Regions from separate parts of the Homo sapiens genome. Here region 1 is linked to region 2. The links come from fine-mapping of genetic effects on gene expression. Tissue or cell type: whole blood. Region 2 holds a variant in brackets; the other region holds the start of a gene. All regions are shown on one strand. Distances are between the middles of the regions.

Region 1 (5,000 bases), 100 kb after region 2:
TGGCCAGGCTGGCCTCGAACTCCTGACCTCATGATCCACCTGCCTTGGCCTCCCAAAGTGCTGGGATTACCGGCGTGAGCCACCGTGCCTGGCCGTAAAGGTTGTTAAACAGACCTGGAGGACAAAGGTTTTTAGTCACTTCACCTTTAGAAAACACTCTTATTTTCTCTGTTCATTTTGGCAACACCAACAACTGAAACCCTGCTTTTCTAAATATATTGCAGTTTGATTAATCTCAAAATAAGTCAGCTGGTTTTGCAGAGACACTGGCAGAACCATTTTGGGGTGAGAGGTGGCAACCTGGGTTTAAAAACTATTATAGGCCAGGCGCAGCGGCTCACGCCTGTAATGCCGGCACTTTGGGAGGCTGAAGCGGGTGGATCACCTGAGGTCAGGAGTTCGAGACCAGCCTGGCCAACATGGTGAGACTGAGACTTAAAAATACAAAAATTATCCAAGCATGGTGGCACGCACTTGTAGTCCCAGCTACTCAGGAGGCTGAGGCACGAGGATTGCTTGAATACAGGAGGCAGAGGTTGCAGTGAGCCAACATCACACCACTGCACTCCAGCCTGGGCAACAGAGCGAGACTCTGTCTTAAAAATAATAATAATTATTATTAAATAAATAAATATAAAAACTAATTACAGCTGCTTGAGCCACGAAAAAGAATGAAATCATGTCATTTGTAGCAACGTGGTTGTAACTGGAGGTCATTATGCTAAGTGAAATAAGCGAGGCACAGAAAGACAAATACTGAATGTTCTCAGTCATACATAGGAGCTAAAAAAGTTGATTTCTTGGACCTAGAGAATAGAATAATAGATACCAGAGACCAGGAAGGGTGGGTGGGGGGCAAGAGAATGAAGAGAGATTGGTTATGCGTACAAACATACAGTTAGATAGAAGAAATAAGTTCTGGTGTTTGATAGCAGCTTAGGGTGACTATACTATAATAGCAACAATACCGTGTACATTTCAAAGTTACCAGAAGAGAGGACTTGTAATGATACCAACACGTAAAAATGATAAACATTCAAGTCTATGGACACCCCAAATACCCTGTCTTGGTCAGTACACATTCTATGCATGAAACAAACACTCACATGTATTCCACAAATATGTAAATTATTATATACCAATAACAGAGAAGAAACTAATTATAATTGACCCATAAAGTCAAGGGTGAGTTGAGTCTATGGATCCTGGTTACAATAAACGTCTTCAAGCCTCTGTCCCCTTTGCTAATGTTTTCATAACCGAGTAACTCACTTCAGCCTCACAGCAGACCCATTTCCCAGACAAGAAAACTGAGACACAGAGAAAAGTGGCTTGAGGCTGTAACTTGATTTGTGAAAGAAGGCTAATTTTACCCATTTTTTCCATCGGCCATTCCTTATTCCTGCAAAACACTTGCGTTTGAGTCTGAAGACAGTTCACACATTGCACGGGACACCTGCAGTCACCTGCCTCCTTCCAAAGTTGGCTATGATCAGGTCTCCAAGACTCACCCTGAACCTCTGCCCTAGAGTGGTGCCACAAGAGGAAAAAGACTCTACCAACTTAACCTGAATTGCTTGCCGCTGGTGGAACTAAAGTGGGAGGCCCAAGCTTCCTCTACAGAGCCTCTCTCTCCTTAGAAAAAAAAAAAAAATCAACCAGGAAAGGCAAATTGTACAGATGCCACTAAAAAGAAATTCCCGCTTAGTATTGCTTCCTCTGCACCCAGCGACTTTTAGACAAGCAGAAGACGAAATGCCCTGCCCGCGACTAAACCAGACTCCTTTTCACTTACTACCCTTTCAGCGTGTGTGTGGCCTGATGTCCAACTCTGGGCTCTGAATCCATCACTAAACTAAGAACCGTACCCAACAAAGGACACTGACACATGGCACAGGCTGGCCGTGCTGCCAGGCAGAGATAGGACGGGTTCTATCTACACAGGGAGAACAAGAAGGCTGGAGTGGCCTTGCTAACGCGCCATTATCACTTGAAAAATATCCATGAGAGCCTATCTCCCCAGGCCACGCCGCCGCTCTTTCCCTTCCTTCGTAGACATATTTCTCTCCATGAATTAACAACATAAATTAAAAGAACCGAGCAGGTGTGACCATGAGACCACCGGCCTCCGTGAGTCTTTGAGAAAACAAGCCAAAGTCCCCTTCCAAATGACAGTGACAGCCCCCTAGCCGGGTGGCCCACCCCGCAGCCTGTAATAACACACCTACAAAACGCAGTTTAGCAGACTCAAAGGAAAGCCTCTAAGATCTCAATAGATTTGGACTATAATCCAAAAACCATCCCTCCCCAGCGCTATTGCTGACAGGACATAATTCAGAGACCCAGGTAGTTGGAACTCAATTTGACAGCAAATCTCTGGATGTAAAAAATATGAAACTGGCTTCAGCGAGTAGGGCAGAGTCCACCTGCTGCCTTCAGCTACAAGGTCGATGTGCCGCTATGCTAAGGCAGGGAGCCCACGGGGAGGCGAGGCGGGTGGGGTGTGCAAAGCTGCTCTTGCTCGCGTGCTGCCTACTGGCGCGGCCTGGGTGGCCCCCTCCTGACATCTCCCCGTCCACCCGAGCAGCCGCCCAGTACTCACTTCGCGGAAGCCCACAGAATAGGGCATGCCGGTCTTTCAGCAGGGGCCCGCCGAAGGGCCTTGGGGGCTTGAGGAGGAGCAGCTGGGGCTGGCGGACTCACCGCAGCCTCTGCGGGGCCTGTGACGTGCGGGCCAGGCCCCCGAGGGCCTTATCGGCCCCAGAGGCGCTTGCTGTCGGGCCGGGCGCTCCCGGCACGGGCGGGCGGAGGGGTGGCGCCCGCCTGGGGACCGCAGATTACAAGAGCACCTCCTCCCCCAACCCCAGGAGGCCCCGCTCCCCAGGCCTCGGCCGGCGCGGACCCCTGGTTGCCCCGGGGTCGAGAGCAGCCGGGGAGAGCTGAGTTCAGAGCCCAGAGTTGGACATCAGGCCACACGCTGAGAGGGTAGTAAATGAAAGGGAGTCCGGTTTAGTCGCGGGCAGGGCATCTCCTCTTCTGCTTGTCTAAAAGTCGCTGGGTGCAGGGGAAGCAATACTAAGCGGGAATTTCTTTTTAGTGGCATCTACACAATTTGCCTTTCCTGGTTTTTGTTTTGTTTTGTTTTGTTTCCTAAGGAGGGGGAGGCTCTGTAGAGGAAGCTTCGGCCCTGGGTGCCCCTGGGTTGGGAGCAGTCGGGGAGCGCTGAGCCAGGGCGCACGCCCTGTCGGCGCTGCGGGTGTGGGGCGCAGGAGTCCTTCTGGCCGGCCCCTCCGCCCCCCGGGGAGGCTGGAGCTCTCCAAGGCCGGGGAGCCTCCCGAAGCGCGCTGCCCCCTCTGTTCTCCGCGTGCTTTCACTAGGGCCCCATGCTGCTTAGTGGCCGATTTGCAGGGAATCTGGGCACAATCTTAATAACACCAGGGCCAAAAATAACAACGTTCCTGGGAACCGAGGTGAGTCACCGCAAACAGCGGCTAGGAGGGCGTGGGATGGCGCGGGCAGGGGGGCGCCCAGGCGGTCCCGCAGCTGCCAGAAGGTCGGGGCTGCCCACCAGCCAGGCTGGACCATCCCAGGCCAAGCTCCTGCAGGCCTGGCCTAGGAAGCCGCCTTTTGCAACGTCCGCCCGTCCAACAACGGGATGAGATGTCATCTGCCCAGAATGGCTTTATCAGTGAGAACACCATATCCTGGAATGGCAGTTGGTGGCTGGCAGAGGGAACAGGTGACCCCGAGGAGCTGAGCTGCGGGGCCAGGGGCATGGCAGCCTCCCTGGACCCTGGGGGTGGTGCCATTAAGGTGGGGGCTGTCTCCCTCCATGGTTTCCTCTAGGGGTGGGTGTCACCGCTGGGGGCCTCTGGTGCAGTCCTCCCTGAGAAGGGTCTCTCCAGCCTTCCTCACGTGATGCTTGGCCTCCTGCTGGGCCCACGCTGGTCCAGGTCCCCTGACGAGGCCGCCATCTGGCTTTAGAGCTTTCCCGCAGCACCAAACTGGCCTTGCCATGAGGGCACAGCTGCTGCGGAAAGATGCCACCGAGATCAGCTTCATGACCCGTCTGTGTTTTCCACAGCAGCTGGAGCGCACCCCATGGACGCTGGGCCATCTCCCCGGGGACTAGTGCCTGACAGAGCTGACAGAGTTCTAGGCCACATGTGGGCTAGAAGGAACCGCCATGTCTACCACAGCACAGTCCTTAAGCAGGAGCCTTTTGAAGCACTTGGACTCAAAACAATGGCTGTTTGTTGTTGTTGTTGTTGTTGTTTGTTTGTTTTGAGGGAGCCAGAAAGCTAAAAAATGTAAAAGAAGCAGGTCACATTAGACATGATTTCAGACAGCCTCCCCGAAGGACAGATGATCTCACTTGGCAACACATACTGGGCCAGGCTCACTCATGAGGGGGCAGCGTGGCATGCACCCCACTCAGGGGCAAGAATGAAGCTTAAATATTAGCTGACTCAGAACATAGCAAGTGCTCAGTAATGGCTTCTGGAACGAACCCGTGGTTGTCACCAGCAGGAGTGACGAAAGCTAGAAGCCGTTTCACCATCCAAGGAAGAGGAGGAACAATATTTTTCTCTTTGGAGTTCCCACACTCAGAAGAGAGAACACCAGCATATGAACACAGAGTGTCACATGATGTAGGAAACATCCTGTAGGTAGAGAGTATAATTCCAAAGCTTAGGATCCTGCTAGTTCCTTGTGCAGTGCTTCCGGTGGGCAACATGGTGCCTCCCCAGTCCCTCAGGCTTGAGGCGGGCCAGCACAGCTTCTCTGGGAGCCAGGTCATTTCAGAATTTAACCCCAGAACTAGGTCACCCCAGGCAACACAAGGCTCCTCTCCCTTGGATACAGGAAGCGGAGGAAAAGGCCAGGCATGCTCAGGGGCAAACCAACACCCAGGTGAAAGGGAGCTGGGCTGGTTTCGGGGAGCAGCCTGGTTTCAGGGAGCCGGACTCACGATGTGCTTGAGACCCTCAAATTCACCC
Region 2 (5,000 bases):
ACAGTCTTCAGGATGTAAGCATGGAGCTTACTAAAATGCTAAGGCCGTGGTGTGCAAGGTGAGACTGGGTGAAGCTCACTTTGTCTGCAGCCCTGGGCACCCTACCCTCACCCCGCTGCTCTTCCTCCTAGCAACCTGCATGCCCCTCCTCCTAGGGCTTGGAGAGTTCTTCCCCAGGGGCATGGACTTTTTTTTTTTTTTTTTTTTTTTTTTTTTTTTTTTTTGAGATGGCGTTTCATGCTTGTTGCCCAGGCTGCAGTGTAGTGGAATGATCTCGGCTCACTGCAACCTCCACCTCCCAGGTTCAAGCAATTCTCCTGCCTCAGCCTCTGGAGTAGCTGGGCTTACAGGTGCATGCCACCATGCCTGGCTAAGTTTTGTATTTTTAGTAGAGACGGGGTTTCTCCATGTCTCGAACTCTTGACCTCAGGCGATCCACCCGCCTTGGCATCCCAAAGTGCTGGGATTACAGGCGTGAGTCACCACATGGGCATGGACTTTTATGCAGATACATCATCCTTCCATCTCTTGGAAGAGCACCTCACTCCCGGGGAAGTCAACAAAAACTAAGGGGATTGCTGGCCTCGCCTTCTCGAGTCACCCCCCTACTGTGTTCCAGACGCACTGCAGCAGCCGAGAACAGAAGCGAGGCAGGGGCCCCTCTCACCAATGACGCTGCAAAGCAGGCGCAGGCTGGTGGTGTCTCCCTCCCCGCTGTCCCTCGGGTTGTCGGTCCAGGAAGGAGGTAGTGGGATCCGAAGCCCAATGGGGCGGTGGAACTTCCGGCGCCGGGGCTCCACGGTGACAATGGGGCTGAATGTGGCCTGGTTGCCCAGGAGCTTAGTGACAAGCTCATCCGGGACAGGCTGGGCCTGTGAAATGACAGAGGCAGGACACTCAGGCCCAAGCAGGAGAGGGGCTAATCAGACGGGAGGCAGCTCCATGCCTGGTGAGAGTGGCCGTCAGTGCACGGGGTCCCGCCCTGCTGTTGGACCACAGAACCGACACGGTGGAGCTTGCCTTCCTGAGCCCTTTCTCCCCTTCTCCTCTGCTTCTTACTCCCAGGGCTGGTGCATCTTTGCTAGCACCACAGTCAACTCCCGGAGGTCATGCGGTTCCTGCATGCTGCACAGACTGGGCCGTGCAGCTTGATGGGTTACCAGGGGTTCTGCAACTTATCAGGGAGCTTCCACCTCACCCCTTCCCACTTAACTCTCCTTTGAGCTTTAAACTCAGATCTCCACTGTGGCATTTCAAAGCACCAGACAAAAGTGTGGGGATGTCCTGGGGAAGAGGGTGGCCTTCCCGGAGGCCTGGAGTTCAGTCCACCCCCAGGACCTGGCGGGGAGGAGGGCTGTCACCTGCAGAGCCAGCTTCACTCTCTTGGTGACGGCATTCTCCGGGAACGTTGCCTGTACCAGGGGCACCAGCTTGCTCTTCAGGGAGCCCCCTTCGGGACCGATGGTGTCGTAGTCCTGGCAGAGCCGTGACATGATCACGAAGTACAGCGGGAAGTCGGTGGTGATGATTCGGCACACCCTCTTCTTCTCTAGCTCCTCCAGGCTCCCCAGCTCTGGAATCACACACACAGGCCACCACCCCGGTCACATCAGGCACAGGTTCAGGACTTCCAGGGGCCCCAGAGTCTCCTTGTCCCCAAGACCCAGTGCACACACCCTCCCCAGGTGCCGGGCGGCATAGTGGCCAGAAGAAGTGGCCAGAAGAAGTGCCCAGGCCCAGAGGCCCAGCAGAGCAGATGCGGCTGCAGGCAGCCGCTGAGCATCCTCTCACACATCCTGGGGACCCAGGGCTTGTCCACACCAGGCCATTCTCAGCCTCTTGGGGCTTCCCAAACTTCAGGTGGCCCTCAAAGACCACCTTTAAGGTGCAACTCAAACCCCTCTTCCGCAAGGAGGGGACCCAGCCCTGGGATCCCCCGCCCCTACCTTCGTCCATCCCGTTGAGGATCTGATCCAGGTAGCTCTCTCCATAGCGGCTCCTGTGCTCCTTCCACACGGAGCCGTTTTCGCTCCTCAGAACCACGAGCTCGCGGTCTCCACGGCCATGGGAGGCAAAGTGCGGGATCTCCACGATTACAGGGCTGAGGCAAGGACACAGTGGTGGTGGGGAGGTGCTCATACAAGGCAGGCAGGGCACAGGGAGGGATGGGGCTGCCGGCTCCCACCCAGATGGATAAGGCACTTCCGCAGCCACGTGGAGGCCCCACCTGCAGGCAGGTCTCTAAGTGGACCAGACCCATGGGGAGGTTCCCCAGGGCTTCCCATGGCCCCGCTTGCTCCCCGCCAGGCCTGCAGTGACAGTGAGGGCAGGACCAGTCTCATTTCATGCGGGCTCTGCTCCTACGACCTAAAGATCCTGTCCTTGCACCTGATTCCAAAAATCCACCTGACATCCCTAGACGGGTGACCTCATCTATCAACTGGCCATAATGACATTTCCTTCAGAGGGACACTTTGAGGACAAAGAAACGTCAACGAGAAAACTTGCTGCTTTGCAAATGGTGGTGACCGCTCTGAGGGGCCAGGAGGGCGGACAGAGGTAGAAGGCAGGGCCTCCTGGTCAGGCCTGTCCCCACAACACACCCATGGTGCCTGAGGGGCAGCAAAGCTCCAGGAGGAGCCCAGGCTGCTTCAAGGGAGTGGAGCACAGGCCTCTGGAGCCGGGTACTTCCCTCGTCCTCAGGGGAAACGGCCAGGGAGGCCGTCTTACTGGGAACTCTCAGTGCATAAAAGGTCAGACCCTCAGGCTTCAGAGTGGCCTTGTCTCTAGTGTCACACAATATTTAAGAGTTGTTTTTTTGGTTTTGCTTTTTATTTTTTACAACGACGGGGTCTTGCTATGTTTTCCAGGCTGGTCTCGAACTCCTGGCCTCAAGCGATGCTCTCACCTCAGCCTCCCAAAGCACTGAGATTACAGGCGTGAGCTATCGTGCCCGACCTGAGATCTGAGAGTTGTAAGCCCTCTCAGGGCTATGGACACCTTCGTGTGTCAGGAAAAGTCAGGGAAAGGGGAGGGGCACCCAGTTCTGTTTCCCCATCAGGACAGATGGAAATGGCGTGGCCTCC[G/A]TGGCACAGGGACAGGGGAGAACACGGGCTGCCCGCGCAAGCTCACCTCAGGAACTGTGCCCCCGTGGGCCCCAGTGCTATGATCCTGCTGGCCAGGCCCTCCTCCTCGGCCAGTGGGGGCGGCGTGCTGAGCTTCTGGGGCTTGACCAGGCGGCAGGTGATGCGGGTGGGCGCTGCGCACGTCCGTGGCGGGATCACCACTCGCAGGCCGTTGTGGCGACTTCCTCTCATGGAACCACCCCGGGCGTCAACCATGAAGCTCACCAGAAACCTAGGAGTGGGGCAGATGCACGTTGGGCTTCTGCATCCCCTCTCGGAGATGGAGACAGGAGTCCCCGAGCCCTGCGCCCGCCACTCACCCTGTATGCACCGGGCTGGCCACCGGGCTGATGTTGTCTGAGGTCTCGGTGGCCGGGCTGCTGGGGATGAGGGAGTCCTCATCATACTCTTTAGATGCCTGAGGAGAGAGAAAGGGTCCTCCTGTCCCACCTCCTCCCGGGCCAGCTGGATGCCGTGCCAGGGCGTGGAGGCTTGGAAGAACCTTGCCGCTAGAAACCAGGTGCCACGTGGAGAAAGTGCTCCCACGGGACCCCACCGCCCTGTCAGACAAGGCCGTCCTGAGGTCTAAAAGGAAGCACGAGCTTCCTCCCACCTCCATGCCTCTCCTTGGCTCAAGACCCTGGGACAGAGCCTTGGAATGGGTGGAGCCAGTCCTCACTGTTCAGTCTGGCTCCAGGCCCCAGGCCCGCTGCACCTGCTGCAGACCCGCCCCCCTTCTCTCCAGCTCTGCCCATGGGGAGCCCTGCCCTCAGCAGGCCAACTTCCTCTAGGGTGGGCACTGCATCCCAGCACCGTGACCGCCTCGCCAGTTAGCTGTGGGCGGACTACCTGCCCTGTGGACATTTGGAGCCCATGAGGTGAACACAACAGACTCCTGCCCTTGTGGGGCTTCCTGCCTCCTCACCTGTGCAACGGGAACTTGCCTTAGGGTAACGCTGCAACTACAGGGATGCCAGGCTGCCCTGGCACAGCCAGCAGCACCTGAACCTAGCCTTGCTGCTCTCTAGATCTTCACATTTGCTTTTCCCCCGGTCCAGAACGTCCTTGTCCATCGCCCTTGTTGATCTAATCCTCTCCACTCCCCACATCTCACCTCCTCCACAGATGCTCCCAGCCACCTTGGGGCTGGTTAGGGCCTCCCTGCTCTGCACTCTGTGAGCACTCACACCACACAGTGGAGCACTCCCCCGCTCTCCCTCCTGGTTCTGTGCTAACTGGGTTCATGCGTCCGAGTCCACTCTTTCTGGTTGGGCCCCGGCTCCCAGGAGGCAGGTGTCCAGCCCTCCTGCCTGAGCCTGTCCGGGGTGCACAGCAGGAATCCAGTAAACATCTGCTGGCTGGAGTTCCTACCCTAGGCCAAGAGTTGAAGACAGTGGGCTGGTCAAGGACCCACTGGTTTCTCACTGCTGCTGTCCTGGGCTGCATCCAAGGACTGCGCCACCACAGGAAAGGGCCCCATCTGACCATCTCTTCCAGACGCCGCCCACCCAGCGCCACCAATGTTGCACCATTATGAGGCGTCCAAGCGTGGAATGCCAGTTGGACAGTGAGTGGCATGTGAGCTATTAGTGCCTATTGTGCTACGTACAGGCCACCCCTCAACAATCACTGTCCCAGGGTTTTCATGCCCTCCATGTGGGGAAACCACAGAGAAGGAGCTTCTCACCTGCTCCTGCTCTTCTGACCTGATCACCACTGTCTCAGGCATGGCACAGGGAATCCTGGGGATGGCTGGAGATTCCACCCTGCGTGCCAAGAACACCAGAACATCACAGGGCTGATCCACATGTGCACACAGCTCCTCTTCCTCTTGCCTCCAAGCCTCTCCCTCCGGCTTTCCACTCCAGAGCCTGA

What was found. PIP is the estimated chance that this variant, and not a neighbour inherited with it, causes the effect.
Region 1: ANK1 starts here. The variant in region 2 is fine-mapped to the expression of ANK1 in whole blood (INTERVAL, PIP 0.90).

The regions. Positions count from the first base shown.
Region 1 is chr8:41,794,910-41,799,909 of GRCh38, forward strand. ANK1 (ankyrin 1) reads right to left here and starts at 2,713. Exons shown (of 43, transcript NM_000037.4): 1 at 2,603-2,713. The coding sequence starts at 2,629. It overlaps LOC105379392 (a long non-coding RNA gene), which reads left to right and starts at 2,869. Exons shown (of 3, transcript XR_949708.3): 1 at 2,869-3,470; 2 at 4,085-5,000. RefSeq lists an enhancer at 3,786-4,985.
Region 2 is chr8:41,693,231-41,698,230 of GRCh38, forward strand. ANK1 (ankyrin 1) reads right to left here. Exons shown (of 43, transcript NM_000037.4): 24 at 4,813-4,891; 25 at 3,446-3,543; 26 at 3,133-3,357; 27 at 1,947-2,101; 28 at 1,362-1,573; 29 at 668-872. Among named protein-coding and RNA genes, the nearest start is that of MIR486-1, 35 kb to the left of the region's middle. The variant G/A (reference allele first, on the strand shown) is at 3,087.